Linked DNA regions of Homo sapiens. The protein of the gene in region 2 purifies or fractionates together with the protein of the main gene of each other region. This does not show direct contact. Each region holds a gene or a part of one and is shown on either strand. Other genes may lie near its edges. The genes, in order: NUDT12, HSPB8, VPS33A, LONRF2, USP34, RGPD5 and MYH4.

Region 1 (2,217 bases), on a different chromosome or scaffold from region 2:
TAAAAATCATGTAATTTATAACTATTTCGTGGACAATATATACATGAGATAAGATATAAAGTGTTTGCATAGTGTTTAACCAGTATTAGGTATTGGATATTTTTAGATGGTATCATTATTTTTAAAATGTAACTGACAAATTTGTACCTTAAAAAAACGAAAAGTTTATTGTTGGCATTTTGATATTCTATATGTGGTCATGTACTTTAAAAAAATTGTTTTCTTCAATTACAGTCTAGTTTTAGGCTTCTGCTTTCTGATTATTTGCATTGGGTTTCTGTCCAAAGTGATTTCCAGATGTTTGAACCATTCAGGACACAAAGTGTCCCGGGCATGTTCATCAGCAACTTGTTCTTTTGCTCCATTTCATTAGGAGAGACAATAGAAGATGCTGTTAGGAGAGAAGTAGAAGAGGAAAGTGGAGTCAAAGTTGGCCATGTTCAGTATGTTGCTTGTCAACCATGGCCAATGCCTTCCTCCTTAATGATTGGTTGCTTAGCTCTAGCAGTGTCTACAGAAATTAAAGTTGACAAGAATGAAATAGAGGATGCCCGCTGGTTCACTAGAGAACAGGTAAAGTTCAATTTAATTTCCTTCTTCTATTGATTGTTCCCTGACTGTATTGGTTTGGTCACAGAGCAAGGATGCATATTTTCAGCAAGTTGAATGATGCCTTTGGCCCTCTCATTATGCATGGATTACATGGTAATTAGTAATTCCATACAGGAGGAGTATGTTTCACTAATGTGATCTATATTAACTTATTCTATGAGATTTTTCTAGTAGAGATGATTCTGTACCATTTCGAGTTTCAGATTCCATTCCTTCACATAAATAATAATACCTATCAGTGGGTTTAGAAAAACATTAATTCATAGATGAGAAACAGGAATATTCTTATACATTTTATATTTTAGTTTATAACATTAAAACAAGTAGCTCTCAAAAAACATCAGTAAGTGCTTAAAATTTTCAGAAAGTTTTTATTCATTTTAAAATGTACTTAAGGACAAGAATGACATAACTGTATAATAAACATACACTTAAAATAACTTTCTAAAATGTCATTCCTAAATAATATATTAAAAGATAAATTACTCATCTGACCTGAAATTCTTTCTGACTTTGCCTGCATAAAATTAATTTTATTCTATGCTTAATCCTAAAAGATGGAAATTAGATTATTGCTTATGAATTTTATAAAAAAGAATCTGTTTCAAAAGTTGGCTTTGCTTAGAAATTAAGTGTGGAGCGTACATTTTGCTTTTTCGTGATGTCATTTTCATAAGGGAATGTGTCTTTCTGGAACATTTTAGAAACTGAATCACTTACTCAGTGAAGCAATTAAAAATGCTGTCCTAAATTTTGCATGTTGAGGCGGGGCGTGGTGGCTTATACCTGTAATCCCAGAACTTTGGAAGGCCAAGGCAGGAAGCTTGATTGAGCCCAGGAGTTTGAGACTAGCCTGGGCAACATAGGGAGACCCTGTCTCTACAGATAATTTTTAAAAAGTTAGCCAGGTGCACCTATGGTACCAGCTACTTGGGAGGCTGTGGCAGGAGGATCGCCTGAGCCCAGGAAGTCAAAGCTGCAATGAGCCATGATCCCACCACTGCAACTCCAGTCTGGGTGGCAGAGTGCAAGACCTTGTTTCCAAAAAAAAAAAAACTTTGCATGTAAATATGGATGTTGTCACTTTCTACTGTTGTTATTCACTGTAAAACTCATCACATTTTAATTGAATTATGTAAACATGGGAATAGTATTTAAATATGACAGCTTTGAAATCCTAATGCATTCTATTATGGTGTGTTTTAGGTCCTGGATGTTCTGACCAAAGGGAAGCAGCAGGCATTCTTTGTGCCACCAAGCCGAGCTATTGCACATCAATTAATCAAACACTGGATTAGAATAAATCCTAATCTCTAAATCTAAGAACTAAGCTTTGAGTATTATTTAATAATTTCTAATAACACTCATTCCTCAAGTGATATTAGAGATTATTCAGTACTCTTGAGAGTGTCACAACACAAAATACGATGTTGGGTTTTCGAAATATTTTCAAAGTGTTCTGTCTTAATCACAAATTCATATTTTTACACATTTTTACAATATTGCCTCAGATTATGTTAAATTTGGGTCAGTCTTCTCTGAACTTTTTCTCTCTTGGTTTCTTTTCTTCCTTCACAGTTTTATCTCACAAAACCATTTTTCTAA
Region 2 (3,158 bases):
CATATTAGTGATCTCATTGGGGTGCCATTATTTTTTTTAACCATGAAATCCATGACCTTCTGAGTACTTTCTATGTGCCAGGTACTTTAGCTGAATCATATCATTTTGGTGTTAACAATAATCCCACCAGGCAGATTCCATTGCTATCCCCATCTTACAGATGAGGAAATTGAGACTCAGAGAAGTGAACTGCTTTGCCCAAGGTTGCTCAGCTGGCAAATGGCAGATAGGAAATGGAATTGGAATCCTGGTCTCCAAACTCAGAGTATCTGACCATGATGCTCTCCTGCCTCCCCCAGCACCAGACATTTGAAAGAAGGACTATGGCAGGAAGGACCGGCAGTTCAATCAAAATCTTTCCACTGATCCCTGCTGGCTCTGCCTATTGTAAATACGAGGGTCTTGATGAAAGAACCAAGGCATGAGGTAAGCCCATTCCTGATCATAGGCAGGACTCCTTCTGGAGGGGCTGGGGAGTTTTTTTTTTTTCTTTCTTTCTTTCTTTTTTTGTGGGTACAACAACCTGTAGCCACATGAGCCGTATCTACCCAGGAGATTCCTTGCCAGATTGGAACCATGGAGATGAACAAGGCTGCTTCTGGGAAGCCCATTTGGAAGAAAAAGAGGGAACTAGAAAGCTGCCAAGTCAAGCTTTTGAAGCGGAGACAAAGTCAAAAGTTTAGACCTCCCTCCCAATGCTGGGGATGGGCTGACTGTTTAACCATGTGCACACCAACCCAGTGCACACCAGGTACAGTGTGACAGGGTGGCTATGGCCTAGAGCATGGGTTTTGCAGGCAGGCTGACGTGCATTCAAATTCTGACTCTTCCTGACCACACAACATGGGGCTGGTGATCTTGACTCTTTGAACCTGTTTCTTTGCAGAAAAAAAGGGGGCAATAATAGTACCCACCTCTTAGGGTGGAGTGAGAATTACGTTGCAGTCTTTGACCTTACATGTTGGCATCTTGACAGCAAGATGGAGTATCATACAAATTGCAGGATCATTGAACCACAGAGTATCAGGGCCCCAAAGGATCTTCCTGATTGTCCATGACAATGCTCTTATATTACTTATGGGGAAACTGAAACTCAGAGAGATAGACAAGTCCAAGGTCTCTAACCAAGTGACTTGTATTTAAACCCATTTGGTGGGAAAGTAATTCCTCTTCAGTTCTCTTTCAGTGCTTCTACTTACATCTGAAGGAATGTCTCTGCTAAGTACTAACATGCCTTTAACGCCTTTAGCCTCTATCACTTGCTACCTTCCCTTTTTAACAATGAGAGAGCTGAGGCCCTTAGGCAGGCAATATTATCTAGTTAGAATTTAACCACAGTTTGCTTTCATTGGATTTATTTCATGATCGCTTTCCTCAGTGAACATTTCAGTGATAAGAATTTAACTTTATCAAAAATGAGATGATCTAAAAGAAAAAAAAACCTTTAGTAAATCATGGTACAGCAATGTAAGCATATAAGGCAAAAAATAGTGAAGATGGGATGTGAATGACGGTATTGCAAATGACTGTAATTTGGTTTCCCCTAACCAAATAGGAAGATCATGGACTTTGAAAGCTGAGACCCAAGACCTCTCCCTCTCCTCCTTATTCAGTCCAAATGGGGCTTTTCACACAGAGATGGATGTGTTGAGATGAATTTCCTTGCCATGGTTAAGGCAAACAGCTGCAGCATCCTGCCTGGGTGGAAATCTCCAAGGATCTCAGCCTGGCTGAAGGAATCTCCCTGTCCTCTAATGACTGGAGTTTTCCCTGGGAGAGGAGGCAACGAGGACTCCTGAGATTGGTCCAGAGGTGTCCCAGACCCCAGTTCGACTCCTAGGTGTCTAGAGTCTGGGCAGAGCCAGGAGCTCCCAGGAGTCCCAGCTGCTGGAGTGTGAGTCCAGCCTTGTGAAGCCTTTTCATAATATTAATTCCCATGGACCAAGCCCTGAGTCTGTATTCCATGCTTAATGCGTTATACACATCCTCTCACTCCCATCACAACCCCTCCATGCAGGGATGTGGGAATGGAAGGTCAGAGCAGTTAAGCAAGTTGCCCCAAGTTACCCACTCACTTTCTCATGGAGCCAGGACTCCCTGCACCCGGAGCTGAGATTCAAAATATTTAACAACTAGTGCAGCTGGGCACTGACCATTCAGAAGGGATGGGTGCATGTCATAGTGATGGAGGAGGGTCCTGGGACCCTTTAGTTGTTGGAAGGTGGAGAGGTTTAGAGGGTCCTGGGGACAAGATCAGAGTGACTGGGGTTGGCTAGGGAGGGCTCAGGGCAATAGCTAGCCAATATTCAGGGGTCCCCATCCCCCGGATCATGGACCGGCACCCATCTGTGGCCTGTTAGGAACCAGGCTTCACATCAGGAGGTGAGCAGCAGTTCAGCCAGCATTACTGCCTGAGCTCCGCCTCCTGTCAGATCAGCAGTGGCATTAGATTCTCATAGGAGCTTGAACCCTGTTGTGAACTGTGCATGCGAGGGATCTAGGTTGCATGCTTCTTATGAGAATCTAATGCCCGATGATCTGAGGTGGAACAGTTTCATTCCCCAGTCCATGGAAAAATTGCCTTCTACGAAACTGGTCCCTGGTGCCAAAAAGGTTGGGGACCACTGAATATTTTAACAACTAGCCCAGCTCAGCAGCTGAGCACCAGCCTGGAGCAATTTCAGGCATTTCTCATCAGGTTACTTCCAGCAAGCTATCTCCCCTAAGGCCTTGGAGCATGTGAAATACACACACACACACACACACACACACACACACACACACACCCCTTTTAAGATGATTAATTCACTTCTTTCTTACACAGTCCCTTTTACAGCTATGCCCTGCTTGTGACTCCACCCTGAGACCTCATTTGAGCCTTGACATCAGCTTCCCCCCACCCCCTGCCTTCCTTCCTCTCCCTCAGCAATGTTTAATCTGCTTGCTAAACCAGGGAGAGGTGTGGGGCACGGAGATGCCAGGCAAGCCAGCAAACACGAAGAACAAATGGTTTGGCGTTTGCCTTATCAGGAAGTGTCCACAGGCTTCCAAGAACTGCAGAGGCTGTGGGAGGGCCAGGGACGGACATGTGGGGGAAGAGACAGGAATGTAGAATCCCAAGCTGGAAGAAGCCTCAGAATTCAGCTAGTGTGATCTCT
Region 3 (3,500 bases), 3.1 Mb from region 2:
ATACACACACACACACACACACACACACCCCCCAGTGATCAGGCCAAGTCACTGGAGCCCAAGGCCGCTGAGAATACAATTGGTCACTCCATATGCCTGTCTGGACACGTCTGTCTCTAAGGACACGCTTCTGAGAGGCTACCAGATGTCTACTCCATTTCAATAGTATCAACAACTAATCTAGCAAAAAGTATCAGTAATTGTTTTATGTTAGGAATTTTCATAAAGTGAATAATTTAAAATTTGTTAATAGAGCTATTTAAAGGAGTTATATAAGAAACTCTTTCAAAAGAGCAAATACCTTATCTAATACAGTCTTAAAAAGATTTGATTTTAGGGGCCAGGTCTCATGTTGCCATGTATGGCAGAAAGTGTCTTGCACAGAATAATGTTAAATATCTGTTACTTGATAAAATCTACACTTGCACATTTTGCATTTGCTCTTAAAAATATTTAAGTGGCCGGGCGCAGTGACTCACGCCTGTAATCCCAACAGTTTGGGAGGCCAAGGTGGGCGGATCACAAGGTCGGAGATCGAGACCATCCTGGCTAACATGGTGAAACCCCGTCTCTATTAAAAATACAAAAAATTAGCCAGGTGTGGTGGTGAGCGCCTGTAGTCCCAGCTACTCGGGAGGCTGAGGCAGAATGGCGTCAACCCGGGAGGCGGAGCTTGCAGTGAGCAGAGATGGCGCCACTGCACTCCAGCCTGGGCAACAGAGCAAGCTGGGTGACACACAGTGAGACTCCGTCTCAAAAAAAAAAAAAAAAAAAAAAAAAAAAAAGGCAAGGCATGGGAATCAAAGCAATTGGTTTTCTGGCTATAATCTGAGGTTTAATAAGCTTTCAATTACTTGTTAAAGAGGTTTTTTTGTCCACATACCTTATCAGTGTCTATTCCAGACATAAACTCCTGTTCCACGGTTAATTTATCAAAAAAGTCTTCAGAAGCTAAAATGAAATTAGCAAATTTGCAACTTAGAAATTAAATGTTAATTTACTTGAGTGGCATGCTTTTATACACAGAGCACGATTCAGAAACTAGACATGTGGCTGGGCACGGTGGCTCACACCTGTAATCTCAGCACTGTAGGGGGCCGAGGTGGGTGGATCACTTCAGGCCAGGAGTTCAAGACCAGCCTGACCAACATGGCCAAACCCCATCTCTACCAAAAACACAAAAATTAGCTGGGTATGGTGGCACACACCCGTAGTCCCAGCTACTCGGGAGGCTAAGGCACAAGAATCACTTGAGGCGGGGAGGCGGAGGTTACAGTGAGCCAAGATCACACCATTGCTCTCCAGCCTGGGCAACAGAGCGAGACTCTGTCTCAAAAGAAAAGAAACCAGACATCATGCAAAAAAGCAAGCAAGCAATAAGTTCAAGTCATCACCTGAAGAAAATCTTTTAGGAAACATGGAAAACGCTAGGCCTCTGCACTCCTAAGTTACACTAGATACAGTCGACAAGTGCACTCTTTTGTATCCTTAGGATTTCAGTACAGACCCCAGAATGAGCGTCAGTATGAATGAAAGCTAATTTCTCAAGAACATTTCATTTTCATCATTAGGTTCAACCCAATTTCAACTGGTTTCCACTCCTATGAACAGGGAAACAAAGGACTGATTTTCCGATAACTGTGATTTACTTAAGATTCGAAGTATACTTCATAAAACAATCTCCTACTCAGCTTTTACAGCCCTGTGTTGTAACAAACAAACAAACTCATGTCTGCTTTAATAGATGTCTTCTGAGCTCTTTCAAAATACTCAACATATACTCTTTGTACCAATTCTGCACAGAATATTCAAGGGAAGAACATGCGCCAATAAGTAATCCTTCAAAAAAGGAAAAAAGCTGCTGGCCGCGGTGGCTCATGCCTGTAATCCCAGCACTTTGGGAGCCAAGGCAGGCGGATCACCTGAGGTTGGGAGTTTGAGACCAGCCTGACCAACATGGTGAAACACCATCTCTAGTAAAAATAGAAAATAAGCCAGGCGTGGTGGCAAGTACCTGTAATCCCAGCTACTTGGGAGGCTGAGGCAGGAGAATCACTTGAACCCGGGAGGCAGAGGTTGCGGTGAGCCAAGATTGTGCCATTGCACTGCAGCCTGGGCAACAAGAGTGAAACTCCGTCTCAAAAAAAAAAAAAAAAGAAAAAAAGCTAGACTAAAAAAATTAACCATCTCAGATTATGATGGCAAACTTATGGATAATTTTTTTCTCTTATCTACATTCCAAATATTTTTCATATAAATGATAATGAAAAAATTTGAGTTAAAAAATGGACCCTTCCTCTCTTTCTCTTTTTCTTTCTTTCGTTATTTCGAGATGGAGTCCTGCTCTGTCGCCCAGGCCGGAGTGCAGTGGTGCAATCTTGGCTCACTGCAACCTCTGCCTCCCGGTTCAAGCAATTCTCCTGCCTCAGTCTCCTGAGTAGCTGGGATTACAGGTGCCCGCCACCACACCTGGCTAATTTTTGTATTTTTAGTACAGATGGTGTTCCACTATGTTGGCCAGGCTGGTCTCGAATGCCTGACCTCAGGCGATCCACCTGCCTCGGCCTCCCAAAGTGGTGGGATTACAGACATGAGCCACCTCGCCCAGTCTTTTTTTTTTTTAATGGAGTCTCGCTCAACCAGGCTGGAGTGCAGTGGCGTGATTTCAGCTCACTGTAACCTTTGCCTCCAGGGTTCATGTGATTCTCATGCCTCAACCTCCTGAGTAGCTGTAACTACAGGCATGTGCCACCATGCCCAGCTAATTTTTGTATTTTTAGTAGAGACAGGGTTTCGCCATGTTGCCCAGGCTGGTCTTCAATTCCTGGACTCAAGTGATCTGCCTGCCTCAGCCTCCCGAAGTGCTGGGGTTACAGATGTGAGCCATCATGCCTGGCCAACAAATGGAACATTCTTTTTGTTTTGTTTTTCGAGATGGAGTCTCACTCTGTCACCCAGGCTGGAGTGCAGTGGCGTGATGTCGGCTCACTGCAACCTCCGCCTTCCAGGTTCAAGCAATTCTCCTGCCTCAGCCTCCCAGGTAGCTGGGACTACAGATGCATACCACTGTGCCTGGCTAATTTTTGTATTTGTAGTAGACATGGGGTTTCATCATGTTGGCCAGGCTGGTCTCAAACTCCTGACCTCAAGTGATCTGCCCGTCTTGGCCTCCCGAAGTGCTGGGATTACAGGCATGAGCCACCATGCCCCGCCTGGAATATCCTTAACTATTAACATATGTATACTTCATTAACACTGAGAAGAACACGTGGTATTAAGACAGAGCTGACTCTCCCGAAGAGGCATTGTGGTGTTGATGACCTAGGTGTCAAACGTTGTATGTGCAAGTAGCCCCAGACTGAAACAATCATTACAAAGGATACTCACTAGTGACATCTTTGATCAATTCTGCAATTGAGGTATGGTTTGCAAGCGAGCCCCTTGCTGCCTGCATGTGGGGCAACTGGGAAACAAACTGCTTGATCTCCCCCACGGTCTTA
Region 4 (4,051 bases), on a different chromosome or scaffold from region 2:
ATAGTATGCTATGAAAACATAATCATATATTCACCCCTTCTGCTCTTACTGGACATTTGGGTTGTGTGCACTTTTGGGGTATCTCTAACAATGACATACACTCTTGTATCTAATTGCACATTCTTTTGGGGGCACATATGCATATACCTCTTTGAAACTATTTGGCCAAGGACAGGCTTAACATCTGTAGATACTACCAAATATTTTTCAGGGGCATAATTTGCAGTCCCATTAGCAGCATATAAATATCACAGTTTTCATTTTTCTACATCTTCTCCAACATCTAAATACAGATGAAGTATTTCTGATGAAAATTTGATGTTGGAATTGGGTAGTGCAGTAAATGCAAAATATATAACGAATTTCAAAGGCTTAGTTTAAAAAAGTAAAATCTCAATTATTTTTTAAAATTGAAGGCATGTTGAAATAATATTTTGGATGTATAGGGTTAAAAATTGCTAAAATAAATTTCACCTGCTTTTTTCACCCTTTTAATGTAGCTACAAGAAAATCCCAAATTATGTGTGGCTTACACAATAGTTCTAATTGGATAGTGCTGCTCTAACACCATCAATACCTAAATTAGTAGAAAACTAAAAAATATGCCTGTTAAAGTATGGATATGTTGGTTGCAAAAACTACAGAATACTCGTTAGAAAAGCTGAGTTAAGTGCTCTATTCCAGCAGAGAATATCCCAATTTAGATACAGATATTGAACACTTGTTCAATATTTGGATCTTTTTTTTTGCAAGACAAAATTGAATGCTAGTCACTTTATAATTTGTGCCTTCTAAAAGGGAAAACCTTAATCCTAAGTTTAAAATAAAATGTGCACTGACTACAGCATGGTAGTAGATTATTTTAGTAACAAGAGATTCAACAAGTCTTCTCGGCTAGTGCTTTAAATCGTATATGCCCTATTATAAAACCGGTGAAACCAGAAAGCAAACCGTCCTCCTCACACTGCCCAAAACAACTGCCAATAGAGCGCATACTCATATGTCAAAGCCAAAACGATGACAGAAGTTTGGTCTTCCTTTCAGCTAAATAGTGTTAACAGGTGGTGGCTGGGTGAAGGCAGGAGAGTGCCTGTTGCTGGCCTTAGGCCTCAGATAAATAAGGAAATGACTGAATGAACAATTTAAAACTACACACACTAGTCAGTGTAACTATCTAGTAAGTTAAATACGCCATGACATCTAATGATGGCCTCTGAGACAGAGAGCAGGCTAGAGCCGGAGCGTTTGACGTGATTACAGCAGAGTGGAGGCGGTTCCTTCCTGGCTATATTAGCTGAAACCCAAAGCAAATCTTGCCCCAGCACAAGGCACCCCTTTCTGCGCCTGTAGTGTGTCAGCTATGTGCATTTTCCTTCAGGATGAGCAAAAATATTTCGTCATCCTCCCCGCTCCTCAACAGCGCAGAAGATGCCGAAAAGCAATTACAGGACCTTACAGAGCTGCTCCGGGGGCCGCGGGAAACTTACCAGCATCCTGGAAAAGACAAAACCAGTGGGGTGCACTTGGCCTCTCCTGGCTGCAGGGTGTGGCCGCCCCCACCTTTCACCTTCCCATCCTTAGGAAGCAAAGTGACCCCTAAGCCTAGACAAAGCTCTCGAAAGCCCAAAGCCTCGGGCCCACCGGCCAGCTCCCCACCCCGCTGCTGGGCCGGACAGGTGTAGGGGAGGCGGACCCGCCCCGCAGCCGACTCACCCAGCTCCAGGGCCTGGTCGCACCTGAGCAGCGCGGCCTCCGGCTGCTGCTGGCGCTGCAGGCTCCGCGCCTGGCCTGCCAGCCTGCGCAGCCGGCACTCGGCCGGGAAGCACTTCTCCAGCAGGCCGCTCAGCACCACGTTCACGCGCCGCACCTGCGGCCGCGCGGGCCCTGGCTCCACGCAGCGCTTGCAGACTGTGAGCCCGCAGGGCAGCGTCACCGGCTTATGCAGCAGCCGCCGGCAGCGCGGGCAGCCGAGCAGGTCGCGGGGCGCGCGGGGCTCCGGGGCCGGCCCTCCCTCGCCGGGCGCCTCGGGCTCGCCGCCCGGGTTCTCCGCGGACAGCGGCCGGTCGCGCAGGCCCACGGCGCGCACCAGGCCGCCCGCCAGCTCTTCCAGCTCCTCCGGCCGCAGCGCCCCGAGCCGCGCGGCGCCGCGGAACGCGCCCAGGGCTTCGGGGAGGCGGCCGGCGCGGGCCAGCGCGTCCCCCAGCCTCAGGCACAGGCCGCGGTCCGGCTGCGCCAGCCCGGCTAGCATGGAGCGAAAGAGCTCGGCTGCCATCTCGTAGTCGCCCGCGCGGAAGGCCTCGTCGCCCTCCTCTAAGCGCTGGGCGATCGGCTCCGCGCGGTCGCAGCCAGGACACTGGGGCGGCGGCGGCGGCGGGACCGGCTCGGGGCTCATCACCGCGGGGCTGCGACGACGCGGGTCCGGAGCGAAGGCGCGGAGCAGGGAGGATGCGCTGCTGCTGGGAACTGGCCGGCGGGAGCGCGGTCTCAGCCCTCGCCAGCAGCCACGCGCGTCTGGGGGCGGCGCGCTGCGAGCGGCTGAGACCGCGGGCGGGGGCGGGCGCCTGGCTTGGGCAGCGTCCTCAGCGCGGTGTGGGCGGCGAGCCCCGCAGGGCTGCAATCGTTCCGGGGTGGGGGCCGGGACAGGCACCGCGGGCGCAATCTGAGCCCCTGCCCACGCGCAGCGGCCTCTCAGTCCCGCCGGCTTAGGTAACCCAGGTCGCTGCGGTAACGCAGTGACCGCGCTCCAGGTCCGCGTCTCTTGCGATGCTTCCCCCACTCGCCTGAGGGCTCCTGCGCGACTGCGCGCGCGTCCTCTGCCTGCCGCCTCCCCGCAGAGGTGCCGGGGCCCTGGGAGCAGGTGGCCTTGGCCGCGGGCTGCTGGCGCGCCGGCACCGCGGCACCTGCTCTTCCCCAGAGGCCTGGCCGCCCCCACAACCTGTGGCTCCGCTTAAGCAAGAACCCAGGAAAAGTCACCAAACGCATCACGCATCTCTAGCTTCGACTTAGGAAATTGTCCTAAATGACTGGGGAGGCTGAAGTGGGCACCCAGAGGCCCCGCCTCAGCGAGCTTCTTCTCTTAACTCTAGGCTGAGGCCTTTGAGAACTCATTTTAACAGAGAACGTGGAGGGCCAAGAGAACCAGATACCAGGAGGAGGAGGGATTCGAGAAGTGGACAATTGTATTGTGCCCTTGATTAGGAAGCAGAAATAGAATTAGAAATAGAATTCTAATTAATAGAATTAGAATAGAAATAGAAAGGGTGCCCTAGTATGGAGTACTGCAGACATAAGTTGCTGGGGAGAGGGAGCTAAACGCTCCGTTGGTGTACAAGCAAGGTTTAAATTAAAATCCTCTGTGCGTATTAACCGGGTTCATAATTTCTCCTATATAGCCTATGTATTTCTCCTATGTAGCCTGCTCCCTTCTTCCTGTCGTCACAGTATCTGTTTTATCCTGTGTATTTGAATACAATAAAATGCATTACAATATTCTAGAATTCATACTACTGTTCATATTTCAAGAATAAATTTTTTTAAAAAATTGGAGAGGTTTTTCTACATCTAAAACTGCTGGCTAAAGAAAATATACAATACCTCGACCACATCTGGCTTTGGGAAAGGAGAAATGCCTCATTAAGTGAGAGAACATTTTAGACCAGTTCCTAAAAGGGAAAAAGGGGCAATTTTTGGCCAGCCCTCTAGTTCTACAATAAACAAATGCAGAGTACCCACCTCCTTTTCCATGAAGGATTTCCCCCAGCTGTCTACCTAACTTAATTGATAACAGTGTACTGTTTGGGTCTCTTTTTCATTACTGAATTATTTCAAATTCACTTTTTCAATCACTGTTTGGATTTTTATCTGCTTTCTTTATAGAATAACAATTCACTTATATTTGAGGGTCATTTATCCATCAAATTCACAACCAACAATCAGGAAGCAATGGGGAAAAAGCTTCAGAGCACAGACCATACAGTAAAGATTGTGAAACCTTATGATCTCAGATCCTATTTGTTCTTATTTTAGACAAATATCTAGCAAGAGAACAGAA
Region 5 (3,500 bases), on a different chromosome or scaffold from region 2:
AGTGGTTTAAAACAATGACGTACACCAGGCGTGGTGGCTCACGCCTGTAGTCCCAGGAGGCGGAGGTTGCAGTGAGCCCAAGATCGCACCACTGCACTCCAGCCTGGGCGAAAGAGCGAGACTCCGTCTCAAAAAAAAAAAAAAAAAAAAAAAGAGGTACTATGTAATTTTCACTCTGCTTTCAGAGAAATTTACCTTACGAGGTAAATAACCTCAGTTTACTAGTGAGTTTGCTATGGTGATGGCCTAAAGCATGTAATTTTAAGCCTCCAACTCCTCACCAAGATCTAGAAATGCTTTGGCCTTTGTAAACTGGTTCACAAAAGTAACTACAAAAGCAGTTATCAGACAAACTCAACAGAACAAGCAGAGGAACAGAAATTTAAAATTTATCCTAAACAGAATGTAATCCCACAAAATGATAACAGCAAAATTTACTCAATACATCCAAGCTTTTTAAATGTTTTTAAAATGAAGCATGAAAAGAAAATGGCAAGTCCAGTATTTTAGTATTGTTGGGATTGGTTATTCTAACACTAAAGCCAAATATGATTTTGAAATGTAGTTTCAACTTTTATGATATGTGTCAAGATTATATTTAAAAAGGGTGGGTGTGGTGGGGCAAGGGTACTTATGATAGGATCCTTAGTCTGGTTCCAGGAACAAACTTCAACGGGTCCTCAACCTGTAAGCACAATTCTGTGTCTGTATGCCTCTGCATGTTTCCACAGTGAAAGTTTACAGCTTCAGATTCTCAGGACTAGAGGTATAACTAATAATATTAATACTCTCACCAAAAACTGATGACAAAACGAACTGTTCATAATCTGTTACTTTTAACGATACTGCATTCTGCCAAACTTTAAACATTCCACATTAAGTCCTTACTCTTATCAAAAAGTCTGTGCATATCTAATACAAAGCTATACTACCCACACTTGTGTCTACCCTTTCATTTAAAACACAATTAACTGGCCAGGCATGGTAGCTCATGCCTGTAATTCCAGTACTTGGGGAGGCTGAGGCAGGAGAATGGCTTCAGACCAGGAGTTTGAGACCAGCCTGGGCAACAATGCAAGGCCCTGTCTCTATTAATAAACAAAAACACGGCTAGGCACGGTGGCTCACGCCTGTAATGCCAGCACTTTGGGAGGCCGAGGCAGGTGGATCACGAGGTCAAGAGATCGAGACCATCCTGGCCAACATGGTGAAACCCCATCTCTACTAAATATACAAAAAATTAGCCGGGCGTGGTAGCGGGCGCCTGTAGTTCCAGCTCCTCGGGAAGCTGAGTCAGGAGAATGGCGTGAACCCGGGAGGCGGAGCTTGCAGTGAGCAGAGATGGCGCCACTGCACTCCAGCCTGGGTGACAGAACAAGACTCTGTCTCAAAAAAAAATAAAATAAAATAAACAAAAACACAACAAAATTTGCTGGGAATGGTAGAGGGAGGGGAGGGATAGGGAGAGATTTGTTAAAGAATATAAAATTACAGTGAGATAGAAGGAATAAGTACTACTACAGAATGACTACGGTTAACAATAATATATGATACAAGCCGGGCATGGTGGCTCATGCCTATAATCCCAGCACTTTGGGAGGCCAAGGCGGGCAGATCACTTGAGTTCAAGAGTTCAAGACCAGCCTGGCCAACGTGGTGAAACCCCATCTCTACTAAAAATACAAAAATTAGCCGGGCTTGGTGGCACATGCCTGTAGTCCCAGCTACTTGGGAGGATGTGGCAGGAGGATTGCTTAAGCCCAGGAAGCGGAGGCTGTAGTGACCCAAGAGCATACCACTGCACTCCAGCCTGGGCAATGGGAAAGAAACCCTATCTCAAAAAAACAATAATATATGATACAGTTTCAAATAGCTAGGAGGATACTGAATGTTCCCAAAGCAAATGCTAAATGTTTGAGATGGATATACTAATTAACTTCAACTGATCACTATACGTTTTATGTATTGAAACATCACTATGTACACCATGAATATGTAAAATTATTATTTATCAACTAAAAATTTTTTAAACAAAATTTTTAGGCCAGGCATGCTGGCTCACTCCTGTAATTGCAGCACTTTGGGAGGTACAGGCAGGCAGATCCCCTGAGGTCAGGAGTTTGAGACAAGCCTGGCCAACATGGCAAAATCCCACCTCTACTAAAAATACAAAAATTAGCCAGGCAAGGAGGCGGGTGCCTGTAGTCTCAGTTACTCAGGAGGCTGAGGCAGAAGAATCACTTGAATCCGGGAGGTGGAGGTTGCAGCTAGCCGACACTGCATTCCAGCCTGGGTGAGAGTTAGACTCCGTGTCAAAAAAAAAAAAAAAAATTTATTACACTCGTTTGCCCAGGTAGCCTTCTCTAAGTGTGATCACTGTTTGTTAATTTCACAAGAAACAGTGTTTTTGGTTTGTTTTTTCAAGACAGCAGTCTTGGCCAGGCGCGGTGGCTCACGCCTGTAATCCTAGCATTTTGGGAGACGGAAGCGGGTAGATCACACGGTAAGGAGTTCAGACCAGCCTGGCCAATATGGTGAAACCCCGTTTCTACTAAAAATACAAAAATTAGCTGGGCATGGTGACGTGTGCCTGTAATCCCAGCCACTTGGGAGGCTGAGGCAGGAGAATTGCTGAACCCAGGGAGGCAGAGGTTGTAGTGAGCCGAAACCGTGCCACTGCACTCCAGCCTGGGTGACACAGCGAGATTCTGTCTCCAAATAAAAAATAAAAAAATAATAATAATAAAAAAAGCAGTCTTACTATGTTGCCCACGCTGGTCTCGAACTCCTGGCCTCAAACAATCCTCCTGCCTCAGCCTCCTGCCGAGGCGGGATTACAGGGGCGCACCACCACGTCTGACTGTTTTGTGAGGTTGCTTTAATACTAATTACGTATTTTTCAGCATGACCTGGAAACACACCACCCAAAAATATGCACAATTTTATTGCTTCTCTCAGCTGGCTAAACTGTTACAGGGTGTCGTATTTAAAGATGAATTCTGAGCACATTTTGGGAGGACTGTAACTTTGTTTTTTTTTTTTTTTTTTTTGAGATGGAGTCTTGTTCTGTGGCCGAGGCTGGAGTGCAGTGGCATGATCTCGGCTCACTGCAACCTCCGCCTACCAGGGTTCAAGCAATTCTCCTGCCTCAGCCTCCCAAGTAGCTGGGACTACAGATGCCTACACCACCACACCCGGCTAATTGGTGAATTTTTAGTAGAGATGGGGTTTCACCATATTGGCCAGGCTGGTCTCGAGCTCCTGACCTTGTGATCCGCCCACCTCGGCCTCCCAAAGTGTTGGGAATACAGGCGTGAGCTGTATTCAGAGTTGCCCGGCCAACTCTGAATTTCTAAATCAACGTTGAACTGATGCTCATCTTTGTACAAGGTACAGGCGGGAAAAGGGCAGACTTTATAGGTAATTACTGCAAATGAGATCACAAGAAACACATATAATCTACTTCAACAAGTTTTATCAAGCTCCAACCACTCATGTTC
Region 6 (3,500 bases), on a different chromosome or scaffold from region 2:
TAAGTAAGTACTTAGGATCTATTAAGGCACTGAGGATTCCCGGGTCCATGTACTGTTCTCTCTACAGATCAGATCAGTATTTTACAGTCAAGGAGTCAAAAAGGCAGAAATAAATATTGAATTCTTCAAGTAATAAACGAGGTCCACAGCCTGGATCCTTGGTTACATAAACTCCAAAGTCCAAAATGCTGATGCACACCAGGCTGGGTGCGGTGGCTCACATCTGTAATCCCAGCACTTTCGGAGACTGAGGCGGGTGGATCACTTGAAGCCAAGAGTTCGAGACCAGCCTGGCCAACATACAGAAACCTCCTTTCTACTAAAAATACAAAAATTAGCTGGGCATGGTGGCACACGCCTGTAATCCCCGCTGCTTGGGAGGCTGAGGCAAAGAATCGCTTGAACCCGGGAGGCAGAGGCTGCAGTGGGCCAAGATCGCACCACTGCACTCCAACCTGGGCAACAGAATGATTCCATCTCAAAAAAAAAAAAAAATGCTGATACAACCAGAGTATGTTCCATCCATGTGATAGAGTATACAGCTACTCAAACATCTTATTTTTGAAATTCCAAGACCCCAGTGAATGTCCAAAAACGATGAATAGTACCAAACCAGGTTGCCATCAATCGAAACATGCTTCCTGTTTGTGTCCTCCACCCACAAATTTAATGTCTTGTCCATCTCAACTAAGCACTTATCACACACTGTGGCTGTAACTTTTGCAGTTTGGGGTGTCACAACAAAACTAGCACAAATTTCTTTTTCCTTCTTCACAATTTCATGGACAAAAGATTTGTTCTTACCATAGATCTCAGCAACCCCAGTATATGATCTTTTTTCTTTCCTAAGTCAAAAACTCACCTCTTCACTTAAAGGAAGCACTATATGGCTTCTCTCTGGCATATGTGAACTGCCAGCATCACTATTCTTGCTCTTTGGTGCCATTTTAAATAAAATAAAGGTTACTTGAACACAAGCACTGCAATACTCCAACAACTGATCTGATAACTGAGATGGCTAGTATGTAACTAGCGGGTGGGGAGCACATACAGCATGAATATGTTGGACAAAGGGATGATTCGTGTCCTGGGTAGGACGGAGCAGGAGGCCGTGAGATTTTTATCATGTTATTCAGACCTGTTTGCAATTTAAAACTCATGAAATGTTTATTTATATAATCTTCCATTCAATATTTTTGGACCACGGGTGACGCAGGTAAGTAAAACCACGTAAGGCAATACTGTGGATAAGAAGGGACTACTGTACCAGCAACGAACAATCAGAAAATGAAATTAAGAAAGCAATTCCATTTACAATCGCATCTAAAAGAAAAAAATGCCTGGGAATAAATGTAAACAAGGAGGTGAGAGACTTGTATGCTTAAATTACAAAACCTTGCTCAATGCCAGGCTAACACCTGCAATCCCAGCACTGGCGACAGAGCAAGACTCCGTCTCAAAAAAAAAAAAGAACTATAGCAATCTTAACAAAAATAATACACAACAGTCAGGACAGCACATAAAGGAACAAGGCCTGTTCCCCCCTTCCTTTTTTTTTTTTTTTTTTGAGATGGAGTCTTGCTCTGTCGCCAGGCTGGAGTGCGGTGGCTCGATCTCAGCTCACTGCAACCTCTGCGTCCCGGGTACAAGCTGGGACTACAGGCGCATGCCACCATGCCCAGCTAATTTTTGTATTTTCAGTAGAGATGGGGTTTCACCATGTTGGCCAAGATGGTGTCGATCTCTCGACCTTGTGATCTGACTTCTTCCGCCTCCCAAAGTGCTGGGATTACAGGCATCAGCCACCGAGCCCGCCAGTTCCCCCTTTTCAAAATGAAGAAATAGATTCAAGGTACAATGCCAAAACATAATAGAAAAATAATTCCATTACCTTCTTTGCTTCCAACTATGTTAAAACATAATAGAAAAATAATTCCATTACCTTCTTTGCTTCCAACTATGTTATTAAAGTAGACAATCTTAAGATAATTAAACAACTTTACAAATTATTCTTCTATATGATCTTTTGCCTCTAACCTGCTCACTTTACAAGGGAACTGAAGCTCAAGCAGGCAAATGCCTTGTTTAAAGATATACAGCTAGAAAGGAGCACAGCCCATGTTATGTAAACAGGACAATATCTGATGCAAGCAGTACTTCTTTACATGACAGCAGATGTCACTATAAGCAAATACCTGAATTCACTTAAGCTGTCAAATATCAAGAACTGATGCAGGGCTGAAAACAGGAACAGTAAGACCCTAAGAGATGCCACATCATCGCTATCTTGCACAGTAAGATAGAGATGTAATTGTAATTGTCCAAAACTTAATATTTGTGGCCTACTTTTTCATTATGCAGTTCTAAATTTCTCTCTCTTTTTTTTTTAATTCAAACGGAGTCTCACCCTGTCGCCCATCTTGCACAATCAAATGAATCTCCCTCCCCCTAAAATCCTCCAAAAAAGCTGCTGTTCTCAACAAACCCATCTGATCAGCTCCAAATCTGTGGAGTCCCAACAAGGGTGAAGGCCGTGATTATACAGGACAATGAGGAAAAGTCTAGATACTGAACCATGAGTTCCCCAATCTTCTTCCCCTGGAACATAAGGGTAAGGAAATCTCTCAAAAGGCAGAACAAACAAAAGAGGAGAATAAGAGAAAAATTAGAGAAACTCCAGCTTTCAGGTAAACATCATTAAAAAAAAGGGTAAGAAATGGTTAAAGAAATAATACAAGAAATGCTACAGAACTGAAAGAAATGAGTTTCCCAATTGAAAGGACACTTCCAGAAAACCTTTAAGTTACCAAGAACAAGAATCTCATGGGACTCCTAACAACAGAACTTCTAGAAAATGAAGCAATGCTTTCAAAATTGCGAAAAAAATTATTTGAAACTCAGAATTCGATAACCAAATGATCAACTAAATTAAGTAAAGATGTTTTAAAGACATACCATTAGTTTCTAGACCAGCCTGACCAGTATGGTGAAATCCCATCTCTACTAAAAATAGAAAAAATTAGCCGGGCATGCTGGCGCACACCTGTAATCCCGCTACTCGGGAGGCTGAGGCAGGAGAATCACTTGAACCTGGGAGGCGGAGGTTGCGGTGAGCTGAGACCATGCCACTGCACTCCAGCCTGGGCAACAGAGCAAGACTCTGTCCCATAACAAAAACAAACAAAAAAACCTCTCATCCACTTTTCCTCAAAGCAAGTGAGACTATGCTACACCAAAACAAAGAAAGTAAATGAAGAGGACATGAGATACAAGAAACAAAGGGTCTAACTCAGAAAAAAGATGAAGGGAATTCTCAAACTGGTGATAAAGGGAAGTCCCAAGAGCACAGCTGTGTAGCAAAGAGGAAGAAAAACCAATCCGGGTTGGAGAAGTTGGTTAGTAAGGGTATTCCAGGTAGACAGACAATCAATCAATCAATCAGTGTTTTAAGCTGAAATTGATGGGATTATCTGACCAGTTTGACCACATTTGAGGGTTTA
Region 7 (3,500 bases), on a different chromosome or scaffold from region 2:
TTCTAAACAAAGTAGAATTGATTCTTTGAATACTTATTTTCCAAGTAACTGCATGAGATCATGCATACTAGGCAAAATACTGTTAAATGAGGACTCTGAAATATTTCCTTAGAGTAATTTTAAAAAGGTGTTCTCATGCTCATCTGCTTGGATCCAGGATAGATTTTGACTATTTTAACCTCTCAGGGATCAACTTTTGAGACTTCTAGACTCAAAAGAATAGAATTTTCTCTTTTCCTATTTATACCTATTTACTTTTCATATCTTTTCAAAGACTCCTTTCAGTAGGAATTACATTTGTATATTTTGTAAGGTACATTTTGTAAATGTGATTTTGTATGCTCTAACAAGAGGATTTGCACTGGCTAATTTTCTGTCAGTTCACTACTCACATCAAAGATCTCAAAGCCAGCAATGTCCAAGACCCCGATGAAGTACTGCCTGGGCTGCTTGGTGTCCAGCTGCTGGTTGATGCGGGTGACCATCCACAGGAACATCTTCTCGTAGATGGCTTTGGCCAGAGCACCCACTGCATTGTACACCTTCAACAGAAGTGATAGTTTAGTTTTTTAAATTGAAAACAGTGATGAACTCCTGAGTCACTTGCGGTTCAAATAAATCAGACAATTTAAGTCATGTTTACCTGCTGCACAGTCTGGCCTTTGGTTACGAACTCATTGCCGACCTTGACTCTGGGATAGCAGAGAGATTTGAGCAGGTCAGCAGAGTTCAGACTTGTCAGATAAGCAGCTTTGTCAGCAACTGTGTGAACAAGGTGAGAATGGTGAAACTGACCATGGCTTACACAATTTAAAATGTAAATGATGATGACAAAGAAAAAAGGTTTCACTCAAAAAGTAAGATGTGCAAATGTCATTGAAACCTTTTCATTTGTTCATATTGCCTCAAAAGCATTGCCACCACTTGCACTAATTTTAGTCATTTCTTGTGATGATAAATTGGAGGTTGGGGAATCGATGCTGTCTGTGATATTTAACCTGGCAAAAGTAGACCACAGATAAAAATAATTTGAGAAACCCTAACCTAGAGGAGTAGTGACAGAAATATTCAGATCTCTGTTTCTTTCAGTGCCTGTGGGCACACAGATTATCCTGAAATAAAATATGTTTTAGTCAAATAGCAAATATGAGCTTATGAAAAGCCAATGAATAATGGAATGAGCAGAAATCACAAATCTGCTAAATAATGTAAAACGTCAGGCAGTGTGTAATTTCCTTCTCGTAATACTTTTGCCCTTCACGAGCTAGGTCAGAGAAAGTAAAAACACGGTCCCTGCCTCTGAAAAGTTCACTATGTCAGCTTTGTCAAGTGGAAGATACCAACAGGGGGTGGTACCTTCCGTGCCATCTGGCTCTGCCTGCTCTTCCCTTTGCTTTTGCTTGAATTTCATGTTCCCATAATGCATCACGGCTCCAGTGAGCTTGTAAATGGCCACCTTTTCATCAGCAGTGAAACCCAGGATGTCCACAGCACTCTGTCAAAAGAGTTGAATTTGCTCATCCCCAATTAGCACCATGGAAGAATCCCTCAGAACACCGGGGCTGTCTCCCACTTTTTTCTCATCACGCCTTGCCTTATATTTGACTAGCACTTTGCCATCTTCAAAAGGTACTCATATGCTTTACCTTTTGATCCACATGGCAACACGAAGAGGTATGCATCAGTCTTTCCATTTGAGTCATGAGTCCATTTGGTCACAGCATATGATGTGACTTGTCCACACTCACTGAACCAGGACTAAGAGCCATGACTTTTGATGCCAAGGCCAGTGCTTTGCCCCTTTTCTCCACCCCAGCCCCCCTTTGCTTCTCAGGCACATGCTCCTCTTGGTCTTTTGGCTATTTTTGTTTCTTTTCTCCAGTCTCACGAGTCTCTCTGTTGCTCCTTCTTCTCCTATTTGTCCTATCCTAATGCATAATCCCAGTCTACCTTCCCCTGCTAATGGGCATGAGTGATAAAGTTGGAAAGAGGGTATGAGGAGAACAGCAATGGTTGTGAGTCTTTCTCCACATGCCTCTCTGATAGCAAGCCACAGCTCAGCGACCACGAGATGCCTGGGGTAGCAAACTTTACCTAGTTATTTATTTCTCATGCAGAGAAGAGACATTTATGAAAAGAAGGAATTTTGCCATTTAGTATAATATTTCTGTGTCTTTTTTCTCTATCGAATTTTGATTACCTTTTTAGTTGCCCACATAGGCTTTGAAAAGGCTTATAAATGGGGGCAGGATTCAGAGCAGGCAGAGGAAAATATGTTTATTTACCATTCTTACCTAAGACTCTTTCCCCAGATTATTGACTTCCACTTCCAGCTCACTAACTCTACCTATTTACAGAAACTAGACATTATTACGGAAGTCTTAGAGCAAGACTGCTACATTTTTTTAACCTCGCAGACCAGGGTGTGTTTCTTAACTCCCTATCACTTTTGGACATACAAAGATAATAATAAGTTATAGAGAGTTAAAGCTGATATTTATAATATAAAGCCACACAAATGAATTATTGACTTCTTGAAAATAATATTTTAATAGAAAAAGCAGTTTTGCAAGCACTGTCAACTCTAACTTGGGGGTATTGGGATAGTCCCACTGATATTAAAGTTAAAAATAAGGAAGATTATTCAGAAATCAAAAGAAAGCATGAAATATACATAAAGTTTACATATAAAGAAAGTAAGCCAAAAAGCAATAATCCTTAAAAAAGAGGTGATGGTGGGGAGAGAGTGCGTTGTTTCAAAAATAAATATAAAGGCTTATGGAGTCCCCAAAATGAGTGTTTTTGAAGTAGACAACCCACTTCTTCTAATGCTGCTTAGGGAGTAGAGAGGGATATATCATTGGCCCACAGAGGTTTATTCAAAATAAGGCTTATGTTTACATGTGACTGTAGAAGAACAGTGGGAGTTCCATGTTTAGTTGTAATAATATTGCAGCTCCTTCCCAGAATCTTGGGTGTGAGGTGTGGCATAAAATAGCAGAGAAACATTAATATTGGAGCATAAATATCAACCAAAAATGACTAATAAGAAAGATAGAATGAAAGGAGCCTACTAGCTAAGGAATACTAAAGACCCAACATTTATTACAGGCAGTGAAAGCTTTTTAACACATGTAGGGGGAGGGTATTGAAATATCCTACAATTTTTTTCCAAAAGTAAGAAAGCCCAAAGGGTTGTATTACCTATTTATAGTCTTTCTGCCACTGCTTTCCACCCTAATAGAGGAGAGTGTTGTACACTGGAAAATGAATTTACTTTTTACTACTTTGTACCTATTACTTACATCTGTGGCCATCAGCTCTTCCTGGTCATCAATGCTGGGCACAGTAATTTCCCCTTGGCTGACAAATGCGAAGTCATATGGGTTGGTGGTGATCAGAAGCATTTCTGAACACATGGAAAAGAACAGTATATAGACAGCATTGCTTTGGTCATCAAAAACATTTCAGAGAGGCTTCTTAGAAGGGCTGTTATTCTT

Evidence for each region.
Region 1: the proteins of HSPB8 (region 2) and NUDT12 purify together in Homo sapiens (affinity purification with mass spectrometry; 3 studies listed by BioGRID and IntAct, with this or other methods). This does not show direct contact.
Region 3: the proteins of HSPB8 (region 2) and VPS33A purify together in Homo sapiens (affinity purification with mass spectrometry; one large-scale study listed by BioGRID and IntAct). This does not show direct contact.
Region 4: the proteins of HSPB8 (region 2) and LONRF2 purify together in Homo sapiens (affinity purification with mass spectrometry; 2 studies listed by BioGRID and IntAct, with this or other methods). This does not show direct contact.
Region 5: the proteins of HSPB8 (region 2) and USP34 purify together in Homo sapiens (affinity purification with mass spectrometry; one large-scale study listed by BioGRID and IntAct). This does not show direct contact.
Region 6: the proteins of HSPB8 (region 2) and RGPD5 purify together in Homo sapiens (affinity purification with mass spectrometry, with the first as the bait; one large-scale study listed by BioGRID). This does not show direct contact.
Region 7: the proteins of HSPB8 (region 2) and MYH4 purify together in Homo sapiens (affinity purification with mass spectrometry; one large-scale study listed by BioGRID and IntAct). This does not show direct contact.

The regions. Positions count from the first base shown.
Region 1 is NC_000005.10:103,550,573-103,552,789, reverse strand, and holds part of NUDT12 (NAD-capped RNA hydrolase NUDT12), read left to right. Parts: intron 1-373; coding exon 374-573; intron 574-1,818; coding exon 1,819-1,929; 3' UTR 1,930-2,217. UniProt on the Homo sapiens protein: mRNA decapping enzyme that specifically removes the nicotinamide adenine dinucleotide (NAD) cap from a subset of mRNAs by hydrolyzing the diphosphate linkage to produce nicotinamide mononucleotide (NMN) and 5' monophosphate mRNA.
Region 2 is NC_000012.12:119,188,931-119,192,088, reverse strand, and holds part of HSPB8 (heat shock protein beta-8), read right to left. Parts: intron 1-3,158. UniProt on the Homo sapiens protein: Involved in the chaperone-assisted selective autophagy (CASA), a crucial process for protein quality control, particularly in mechanical strained cells and tissues such as muscle. Displays temperature-dependent chaperone activity.
Region 3 is NC_000012.12:122,238,995-122,242,494, forward strand, and holds part of VPS33A (vacuolar protein sorting-associated protein 33A), read right to left. Parts: coding exon 3,388-3,500; intron 952-3,387; coding exon 884-951; intron 1-883.
Region 4 is NC_000002.12:100,319,702-100,323,752, forward strand, and holds the start of LONRF2 (LON peptidase N-terminal domain and RING finger protein 2), read right to left. Parts: upstream 2,801-4,051; 5' UTR 2,393-2,800; coding exon 1,714-2,392; intron 1,681-1,713; exon of another isoform or gene 1,488-1,680; intron 1-1,487.
Region 5 is NC_000002.12:61,464,588-61,468,087, forward strand, and holds part of USP34 (ubiquitin carboxyl-terminal hydrolase 34), read right to left. Parts: intron 1-3,500. UniProt on the Homo sapiens protein: Ubiquitin hydrolase that can remove conjugated ubiquitin from AXIN1 and AXIN2, thereby acting as a regulator of Wnt signaling pathway.
Region 6 is NC_000002.12:109,797,305-109,800,804, reverse strand, and holds part of RGPD5 (RANBP2-like and GRIP domain-containing protein 5/6), read right to left. Parts: intron 1-3,500.
Region 7 is NC_000017.11:10,459,560-10,463,059, forward strand, and holds part of MYH4 (myosin-4), read right to left. Parts: intron 3,410-3,500; coding exon 3,306-3,409; intron 1,496-3,305; coding exon 1,357-1,495; intron 763-1,356; coding exon 644-762; intron 543-643; coding exon 393-542; intron 1-392. UniProt on the Homo sapiens protein: Muscle contraction.